Linked DNA regions of Homo sapiens: region 1 is linked to region 2. Evidence: fine-mapped expression QTL. A gene starts in region 2. The other region holds a variant in brackets. All regions are shown on one strand. Distances are between the middles of the regions. Region 1 has its middle 34 kb from the start of GLYATL2. Region 2 holds the start of GLYATL2 (glycine-N-acyltransferase like 2).

Region 1 (5,392 bases), 34 kb after region 2:
TAACTTGTCTATTAAAGCTTTTACTTAAGTTATGTAAACTTGAATAAGCATTTGACTAGTCTTTTCTTTTTGCTGATAAAGTAATTTGGTTATTTCCTTAAGCCAATTAATTAGAGCTCTTTAATATATTTTCAGTAGTGAAACATTGTGTACACAACACATTAATATATAGAAGTATTAGGCATGCCAATAGAAGTACATCTTATAGATTTATGAAAAACCTTTTTTTCCTATCTTAGACTTTCAGATTCTTAACCTGTTTCACAACCCTAGGCAGTTTTCAGCTAAATAGCCTTAAAATTGCATATTAAAGGAAACAACTCAGGTGAAAATGAAATAGCAAAATTTACATCATAGGGTACACAGAGGAAACGTTTGGTAGTGTTTAAGGGAGATTAAAGATGGATGCCAAATCAAACATAAAATTATATAAATCTATCATAGGATTGTATAAGGAGACCAGTTTTATTTAGGTAGGGACTACCTATCTATTAAATGCACCTCTGAGCTCTGGGCAGAGCCCATATTGAATCCTGGGTCTCCAAAAAAGGAAAATTATTATGAGATTATACCATGTGATGCTTTTATGATGCACTTAAATTTCTTTTTTACAAAGACATTTCTAAATTTCTAGATCACACTCTTCCTTAAAAACCCAATAGTAACCTCTGTTGCGATAACTATTTTTGTCCAAAATAAAGGTAACACAATACAAAAGTAGGCAGTTCAACATCTGAGACAAACTTTTCTGTTTACTTTCTTGGGGTTACATACAAAAAAACAGGTTTCTCCCCTAAAGGGAGTCTGGTACCTTCTTCATTTTCTTTAAGAAACCCCAGGATATTATAAACTATTTGAGGTCCCCCATGCAGCAGAGGGTGCCAGAGAAAAGAGAGACAGCCAAAGTAAGTGAAGAAAACAGAATTCAGTCAACTGAGAAGAAAAAAACTTGTACTGAAAAAAAGACAAGTTCCTAGAAGAAAAACAAAAATAAAAACTTGAAGGCCTTTTAAATACAAACATACACATATGCACACACACACACCTCTTTTTTTAGGGGAATTTAGCCACTTCAGAGGACTTATTCCCCATAAGTTGGAATTTCCTTCAGATTTGATCAAGTCAGATAGAGTCAATCAAACTTAATGGGAAAAAGACTGGAACAACGACAAGAGCAGAAACAAACAACAACAACGACAACAAAAAGTTAAGCCAAACAAATGATTGCACAACTTATATGACTACTGAGCGCTCTAATGATAAGGAGAAATTAAGACCAGCTTGTTGTTAACTTTAGCCAAGACAAAACCTCAATTTAGCTACTTACCTAAGGATGAGTCTCAGGCTGAAGACAGCTGTCTACCATCCTAGAAGCAGAAAAAAAAAACCTCATCTTCCTTGTCAGAAGTGAGCTCAAACTCCACAAAAGAGTTACCCACCTTCCATCATCATGGAAGTAGAAAAACTTGTCTTTCTTGTTGGAATCAAGTAAAACTCCAATAAAAGAGGGAGTTGTACGGCAAAATAAACTTTAGATCTAAACAAAATTTGAGGAGATTAAGGATTCTCTGAAGGGGGTTCTCTCAGACCTCAGCAAATTGTTCTGTTGGTTTGAGTCATAAAGTTAGCTCATGCTGGTATCTGGCACTGAGAGGAGATTTCTCAAAGTTCAGCGACACCTCCACTCAGAATCCCTTCATAGTTACCAAAATGTGAACCCTGAAAATTTGAGACAGGTCTCAGTTAATTTAGAAATTTTATTTTGCCAAGGATGCACATGTGTAACACAGCTTCAGAAGGACCTGACAACATGTGCCCAAAGTGGTCAGAGCATAGCTTAATTTTATACATTTTAGGGAGACATGAGACATTAATCAACATATGTAAAATAAACATTGATTATGTCTGGAAAGGTGGGACAACTCAAAGTTGGGAGAGAACTTCCAAGTCACAGGTATATGAGACAAATGGTTGCATTCTTTTGAGTTTCTGATGAGTCTCTCCAAAGGAGGCAATCAGATATGCATTTATCTCAGTGACCAGAGGGGTGGCTTTGAATAGAATGGGAGGCAGGTTTGCTCTAAGCAGTTCCCAGCTTGACTTTTCCCTTTTGCTTAATGATTTGAGGGGCCAAAGATATTTTTCTTTATTACCATGATGGGTGCTGGAATCTTGACCATCTCAGGTTACAGAAGCATAGGGTCTCCTCAGTTAAGTAATTTACTCATCCATATTTCTTCTCATTCAATAAATAAGTCCCAAATTCTGGCTAATGCCAGATACTATGATTGATCTTGGGGATGCAAAGATGAACAGAACAGTCCAACAGCTGATGATCTCATAAGGGAGACTGGTGATATAAACAGATGTAATAATTTAATATAGAATACCATTACTGGTTATATACCCAAAGGAAATGTAATTAGTATGTTAAAGAGTTATCTGTACTCCCATGATCATTACAGCATTATTCAAAATAGCAAA[G/C]ATGTGGAATCAAACTAAGTACCCATCAATGGATGATGTATAAAGAAAATGTGGTATGTTTTGTACACATATAGTACACCGTGGAATACCATATAGCCTTAAAAAGAAGGAAATGCTGTCATTTGAGACAACGTGGATTAACCTGGAGGACATGAAGTTAAGTACAATAAGCCAGGCTCAGAAAGACAAATGCTTCAGGTCCTCACTTGCAGGTGAAATGTTAAAGTTATTAGATGTAGGGGGTAGAATGGTGGCTACCAGAGGCTGCAGGTAGGGACAGCAGAGTGGGGAGATATTGGTAAGAGAAGATAAAGTTTCAGTGCAGCAGAAAAAAACAAGTCATTGACATCCATTTTACATCCTAGCAACTATTGTTAATAATTTATTGTATATTTCAGAATTGCTAAGGGAGTAAATTTCAAATGTTTTTACCACAAAAATAAGTATGTATGGTGATTGATATGTTAACTAGCTTGATTAAATCCATCCACATTTTATATCCTTTCAATGCCAAAAAGACCATTATAACATATATAATGCTATATTATATTATAACATTGCATTTTATACCATAGATACACATAATTATAAACTCAATACAATTTCTTTAAAAATAAGGTACAAAACTACCGAATTGTCATAAAAAATGCACCTTTTGCATGACTCTAGGGTTCTACTAAAATCACACCAGTCCTTGACAAGACTCCTGAGTCCCTGGATGTGAGGTAGGTGAAGAGGGAGGGTTGAGGATGGATGGATGTATCTTAGACCCTTCATATGGACTGTAAAACAATTTTCTTGCAAACCTAGAACCCTAAAGCTGTCAACCTCTGTTTGCTGCCTGGGAGATATTTGAGATGTTTCCAATGGCTGCTGAAGGTATCTGCCATTTCTTCTTTGGTCTTACTTGTGAATGACTGAGAGTCAATCTTGCATTGGTGCAATTAAAACTCACCCATCAATTTCTACAAACACTTTAGGAGACCTGCTATGTGTCTCTGTGTATTTACTTCACAGAAGGTTCACAGATAATACCATCTGACTTACTTGAGAATGGAATATGATAGTGATAATTTATTTCCTTTTTTTCAAAGAGAAGGGGAAAAATTATTAAATATAGAATAAATTAATGGGCTACTAAGGGAAATTTGGCCAAGTGTTTCACAGATCATTTGGCAAAATATCAAAATGAACTTAAGAAAAAGTTTTGGTGATTAATACCCCAAAACTAAATTTCAGCAAAATTAAAAGTACAGAAACCAAATTGTGGGGCACTGGGGAGAGAGTGTGTTAGAACACTCAAGACCTTTGTCTTTTTGGCTTTGAAAGGATATAAAAAGGGCAAAAAATTAAGGAAAGACTTTTGCTGTTGTTGCCTGATATGGTTTGGATCTGTGTCCCTGCCTAAATCTCATGTCAAAATGTAATCTCCAATGTTGGAGGTGGAGCCTGGTGGGAGGTGATCAGATCATGGGAGTGGATTTCCCCATTGGTGCTGTTCTTATGATAGTGAGTGAGACCTCATGAGATCCAGTTGTTTAAAAGTGTGTGCCACATTCCCCCTTTCTGCCTTCTTCCTGCTCTGGCCATGTGAGTGGTTTGCTTTCCCTTTGACTTTCACCATGATTCTAAGTTTCATGAGGCCTCAACAGAAGCCAAGTCAATGCCGGAATCATGCTTTCTGTACAGCCTGTGGAATAGTGAGCCAATTAAATCACTTTTCCTTATAAATTACCCAGTCTCAGGTATTTCTGTGTAGAGGTGTAAGATTGGAATAATATATTGCCTGAGACAGGAATATTTGGGAGTTGAAGAAACAAAGCAAGGAGAGAGAGAGAGAGAGCTCTGAAGGTATGATTATTGTGAAAAAAGTGGAAAAAAATTTCATTTCAGAGATGAAGAAGGAGATGTCTCCTGTAGCCTAGGTGGACACAGGAGTATTGAGACAAGTTATTTAAGTCAGAGTGAGTGGGGGCTCAAGTACACTTGCAAGCTGTGTGGGCTTTGGATAGTCTTTTGTCATTTCTGTTTCTCAAGTTTTTCAAATGTGAAATGAGAATTTTACTCCTTGGGATGTAATTTGGTCTATAAGTTGCTCAGTACATTGCCAAGTACTTAACATGCACCTAGTAAATGGCAGTTATTATTAGTGTAAATATTTTAAATTTATTTAACAAATATATGTTGCACACCTACAATGCAACAGGTAGTGTTTTAGGATCTGAGACTTGGGAGTAGAAGTGTTGTCTTCTTAGACAAAGTTCATTCTCTATAATCTCTTTATGTTGATTTTGCTTGAAATCTTAGCTGTGTGGCTGAAAAAGACAAGAACAGACTTGGATGTATAGATGTAGGAGTGAGAGAGAAGCAACAATTACATCTCCTTACTCTTTGCCCATTCCATACAGGAGATGATAGACAACTTGGACCACTATACCCCATTTATGATATATTCACCAGGACATCTCAAAAACTCCAGAAAATCCTTGATTTTCTCAGGGTCATCAACTGGTACCAAGCCTTCTGTGATGGTTAACTTTATGCATCAACTTGACTGGGCTAAGGTATGCCCAGAGAGCTGGTAAAGATTATTTCTGGGTGTGTCCATAAGCATGTTTCCAGAAGAGATCAGCTTTGGAATCAGTAGACTGAATAAAGAAGAGTCATCCTCACTGATGTAGGTGGGTATCATTCAATCCATTTAGGACAGAAATGATCAAAGAGGCAGAGGCAGAGTGAATTCTCTCTACTTGAGCTGGAACATTTCTCTTCTCCTGCCCTTGGGCATTGGAACTCCTGGTTCTCAGGCCTTTGGAGTCAGACAGAGAATTACACCATTGGCTTCTCTGGTTCTCAGGCCTTCGGACTTGGGCGGAGTTACACCACTGGCTTTTCCTCCAACTTGCAA
Region 2 (5,392 bases):
TTCTTTTTCATTCCTCAAGCAGAGGGAAGGAGTCTCTTTAGCAGCTGTGAGCTATGCAGCCTGGGGTTAGGGAAGAGGTGATACCAGCTCTCCTTTGACTGACCCAGCTGGTGTCTCAGTATGTCAAGTGTCCCCCCAGTCCACAATTTCTGAGCCTAATTCAGCACTAGGACTCACTTAAGAGTTGCAGTCCTTATGGTTTACACTGCCTTTCACGTTTACTTGGAAACACAGAGAACTTTAGGCCCTCTGTGGTGAGGTTTTCAGTCACTGAAGTTTTGACTGCTGGGATTGGTGATTCCCCTCGGGTTAGGACTGGTTTAAATGCTCCCTCTGCCTCCATGGGCAGGTGTCAGCTGAGTTTGGTCTAGTTTTCCTTTGTGTCTAACATGACAGCAATGAGTTCAATGCCTCATAATTGCTGTGTTCTTTCTACCCCCGTGCCCAGAGATATACTGTGCACCACACTACTGCTACTGAGGTTGGGAGGGATGGGGATTGGTGATTCAAGACTGTTTTTTACTGTCTCTTCAGTGCCTCTTTCAGGGATATGAAGTCAAAACCAGGTACTATGAGTGCTCACTTGATTTTTGGCTCTCATGAAGGTATTTTTTTCTGTGTAGTTGTTAAGTTGGTGCCTTGTGGGGTATGGGGAAATGATTAGTGGAGCCTTCTATTCTGCCACTTGCTTTGCTTCTCCTCCCCATTATAAACTATATAAAAAAAATTTAATGGCTCAAGAAATTACTTAAGTAATACTCAGTATAGAAAAAAAATATGTGTTCTCTCAACTATCCACAGTTTGCTGTCAATTATGGAATAAAACATATGTATTGACTAGTTGAAATGGACCATTTTTTAAAAAGGATGATTAGTTTACTGTATAACTCTATAAACTTTGATATGTATTTAACAAAATAATCGTTTACAATTATGAATATGTAAAATTCTTTGATAGATTATGTGAACCACTTTTGGTTCAAAAAGTAGAGTAACTAAAACTATAAAACTCAATGCCTTACATAGCAAGAATGTGTAGATAGTATTAAATTATCACTGATAATTTTTATATGTCATCTGGAGTAGATGATTTAGGTTTGTAAGAAGATATAAACTGCCTAAGGGTAGAGAATCACTCTCTATGGAATCATAGTGTCATTAAAATAATTCGATATTTGGCCTCATGTTCCAGACATTGCCACTGGTTAGTTTTGTGACCTGGGGGAAGACATTTATTTTTTTCTCAGCAACAGCTTCCTTATTTGTGTAAAAATAACTCTTGCTTTTCTCATGCTATAAATGATTACAATTTGTGAAGTTTCTTTCACTTCCAGAAAGTGGGTGAATTTTTTTTTAATTAGAGATAGTATCTCACCCTGTTCCCCAGGCTGAAGTGCAGTGGTGAAATAGCTTACTGCGATCTCAAGTTTCTGGGCTCACGTAATCTTTCCATCTCAGTCTGCTGAGTAGTTGGGACTATAGACACATGCCACTACATCTGGCTAATTAAAAACCAAAATTTTAAAGACTGGGGTTTTATTAGGTCGCCCTGGCTTGTATCAAGTTTTTGCCCTCAAGCGACCCTCCTGCCTGAGCTTCCCAAGTAGTTGGTATTACCGATGTGAGCCACTGCACCCAGTATAAAAATTTTATAACTTATATTTTCCCATGTTTTAATCTCAATGTCTTCAAAATGTAATGTTGATCAGATTCTTTTAGATAGCTTTTTATAACATACAGATTGCCAGGCACTCTGGGAGCCTCTGATTTACCTGATCTGGAAAAGTTCTTGTATTGTTAACAAACAAGCCTAATTGATCTTGAAGGAGGTGGTGTGAGGAACACACTTTGAAAAACAATGTTTGTCTCTATTCCACTACAAAGCTAATTCCAGTCCCCCTGAAACTTTTCTCCAGTAATTGATTTTTCTTCTTAAACTTACAATGCCCCTCCCTGTTGCTCCACTTTAGACAACCAGAGGACAAGGTATATGAAACTGAGTTCTCATTATTACAGTAACTTCCTTGAGGCATTTTTGGCTTTTTCCAAGCCACAAATGGTTGAAAGTATTAAGCCAAGTATTTTGCATTGAAATCAAACTTTCCAACTCTTTGTTTGCTCTACTGACATCATTTAAATAAGGCTGCAGCTGTGCTATTTTTGCCAACAATGGAAAATTGACTTAATATTGTTCTAGAATAGCCTTTCAGCTACAAGAGGTTATATATAAATCAAAAGCTTCTTGAGTAAAACTTCTTAGAATTGTAGAAGCTGCTCAATATGGAACATATTCTCAGTCCTCCTCTGGTCTACAAAGCCTGTGATTTCTTGTCTATGGACAGAACGTCTGGTTTAATCTACAGGAACCCATAACTTCCTGAAGCTTTATGCTTAACAGTGACAACGTGAGTCAGTTGAATTTTATTGTGTTTCAGTCCGTAGAGTATTAGCTACAGAAACCTTTCCATTGCCATACTGAGAAACTGCAGCAGGCAGTGTGCCTACAGGTCTACAAAGAAACTTCAGGTAAGCAGAATTATTTAGAACAGCCTTTTTATCTTGGCAGTTCAATTAATTTGGATTCTTGTTCTAAATCATTTGTATTTGTTAATTTATTTCTTTTCCCCTGCAAACCCTTGGAAAGAGCACTCCCCAGGGTCTCAATGTTGAGAATGAATTCTTCAAAACCTTTTAGGTACCTGAAACTGGAAATACTTCAGAAAAAGCCAGTGCGTATCCTTTTGAATTTGTAAAATGTCCAAATGCTTTCCTTGAATTATAAGTTATCAATATGCTTGTACCTTTCTCTGACACCCTCTAGATCTCCATAGTAATACTGTTAGCAGAAAAAAAAAATCAATATTCTCCTTGCCTCCAATCCTGCTTCTAAAGTATTAGTGGTTTATTTGCATAGAAAAATCTTCCTTCTTCCTTCTGTGTCATGTGGCTAGAATAAAACAATGCTTTTCTGTTGCCCTCTGCCAAATTTCTCTCCATTCATTGAAACATTTGGCAACTGGTATCCTAATGTTTCTCTCCAACAAACTTCTGCTACATCCTATTCATGTCTGTGGTACCTGAAACTCCCATTCCCTTCTTGGCTCCTACTCTGTTGACTTGGAGTTGAAGCCAACAGCCCTACATCCCAAACTGATCTACCTCTGAGTGCCTCTGACATCTTAACCTCTAATAGTCTAATATCTGATCCCAATCTCCTATTTTTAAGTACATTTTTCCCTGTCTATTAACATTGCTATTCTTTGACTTCATCAAGTACTTTCTTCCATGGCTTTTTCTATATTTTCTTACTTTATTGGTCTCCAACCTACTTTACTTTTTCTCTTCTCTCTCCTGGATGCTACAGTTTGTAAGTTTCAATCTCTCATTTCTATATATTCAAATGCTTTGTACCTTATCTTTTTTGCTACACCAGCCCTGAAAAAACCAACCTTGGTTTGTTTTAATTTGTCTTCTCTGCTTCTACTCTCAGGGAGCTGAGCTCAATATATTGTTGAGTAACACTTCCAAATCATAGTGTCCATCTTTACATTATCCTAAGCATGCTTGCTAGTCCTTGCTAATTCTAGTCCACTCTTTCTCCCATTAACATCAAAAGCCATTTAAACCCTAACTGTTTCCCATAAAATCCTACTTCTTTTTCTCGACACTTTCTTGGCATACTCCCTCACCCACTTACTGCTAAAAAGTGATTTTGGAAATAGGAAAAAATTTTACCTCTTCCAGGAAACAGACATTCAAAAATAACTTGCCAACTCTCTGCTCTTTTTTTCTAACCCTGTGTACTCCCATATAAAATTAGTCCTCACTTAACATTGTCAATAGGTTCTTGGAAACTGCAATTTCAAATGAAACAACATATAACAAAATTAATTTTACCATAAGCTAATTAGTATAAAGAAGAGTTAAGTTCCTACAGCATATTTCTGGTCACAAAAACATCACCAAACTTATAAATAAAGAACCCAAACACTTCTAATATAAAACAATGAACTAAATGGAAACTGCGTATACATTTAATAAATATTAATAAAAACAAGATAATTATTTACCTAATTTTTGGTGAGTCTGTGTGATGGTGGTCACAGTAGTGGTGGGTTAAATTGAGAAATAAATGTTTGCAAAGCAAAAGTTGTAAGGAGCACCTCTTGCCTCTATGAAGTTAAAATTCAATCACAAATATGGTGGCCTCACTGAGTCCTTTGGCACAGCATTGTTTATTGTCATTCATTTGTATGATTATCATAGACTTCATGAATTTTTGTTTTATTATGAATGTTTCATTCATTCATTCATTCATTCATTCATTTTTCAACTGGCTTTTTCCAGTTCAGGGGAGCAAGTGACTGAAGCCTGTCCTGGTAGCTCAGAGCACAAGGCAGGAACCCACCCCAGACTGGACACCTTTCCATCACAGGGCGCACACACACACACACACACACACACACACACACACACACACACAGAGTCTCACTCATCCTGGGACAATTTAGACAGAGAAAATCCATGCAGACATGAGGAGAACAGGCAAACTGCACATAGACAGTAGTCCAGCCAGGAATTGATGTTTTTCTCTTCACCATTGTAATGAAAAGATATTGAACAAAATGACATTATTTGATGACCTGCTGTATACGTACATACATACACCTGCATCTGCATCCATCCTAATTTTTTTTCTGACTTTTCACTGAAAGAAGTATTCTTCCAGTCCAAAACTTAATTTCACAAGTATGCTGAGAATTATCATTGACGATTACATGAATTAATCAACATAAAGAAGCTGAAATAGGGTTGGCATTTTGTATATAAGGTCAATGAATTTCTGTCACCTTTCTATGTCCTGTTTACACATTGGCCTATTAATGACTTACATCTTACCTCTTGTAGTTAGTATAGGTATGCTTAACTCTCATCTAATAAGAGAAATGCCTTTTTTGAGCTCTTGTACCTCTCCTCTGTCCTTCGATATTCTCATGTTCTTCTTCCTTTCCTGGTCAAGCTCTTTGAAAAAGTTACCTTCACTTCCTCACGTTTCATTCCACATCTCTTACCAAGTCAGTAATCAACTCCTAACTCCAAAATGCACTGCCATCTTTAGTACTCATATCTTTTAGCTTCTCAGCAGCCTTTGACTGCTTTGGTCGCTCTTTCCTTGAAGTTGATTGCTCTCCTTTGTGGAATATGCTACCAAAGCCTGCAGAATGGGCAGAATGCTGTGCCATTTGGTTAGTGCACCCATCATCCTAGACAGTGACAGAAACACATTAGCTTTTTCTAGATCTGTGGTTTGCCTCAAAATATCTATTTTGTGTCAATAGATTTATTCAAGCAAGTTACATGTAGTCCATCTTTGAAGTTGCAGTTTTCTTCA

What was found. PIP is the estimated chance that this variant, and not a neighbour inherited with it, causes the effect.
Region 1: its variant is fine-mapped to the expression of GLYATL2 in whole blood (TOPMed, PIP above 0.99). The same link has a PIP of 0.9 or more in blood mononuclear cells.

The regions. Positions count from the first base shown.
Region 1 is chr11:58,807,522-58,812,913 of GRCh38, reverse strand. No RefSeq gene overlaps it. Among named protein-coding and RNA genes, the nearest start is that of GLYATL2, 34 kb to the left of the region's middle. The variant G/C (reference allele first, on the strand shown) is at 2,485.
Region 2 is chr11:58,841,568-58,846,959 of GRCh38, reverse strand. It overlaps GLYATL2 (glycine-N-acyltransferase like 2), which reads left to right and starts at 2,256. Exons shown (of 6, transcript NM_145016.4): 1 at 2,256-2,526.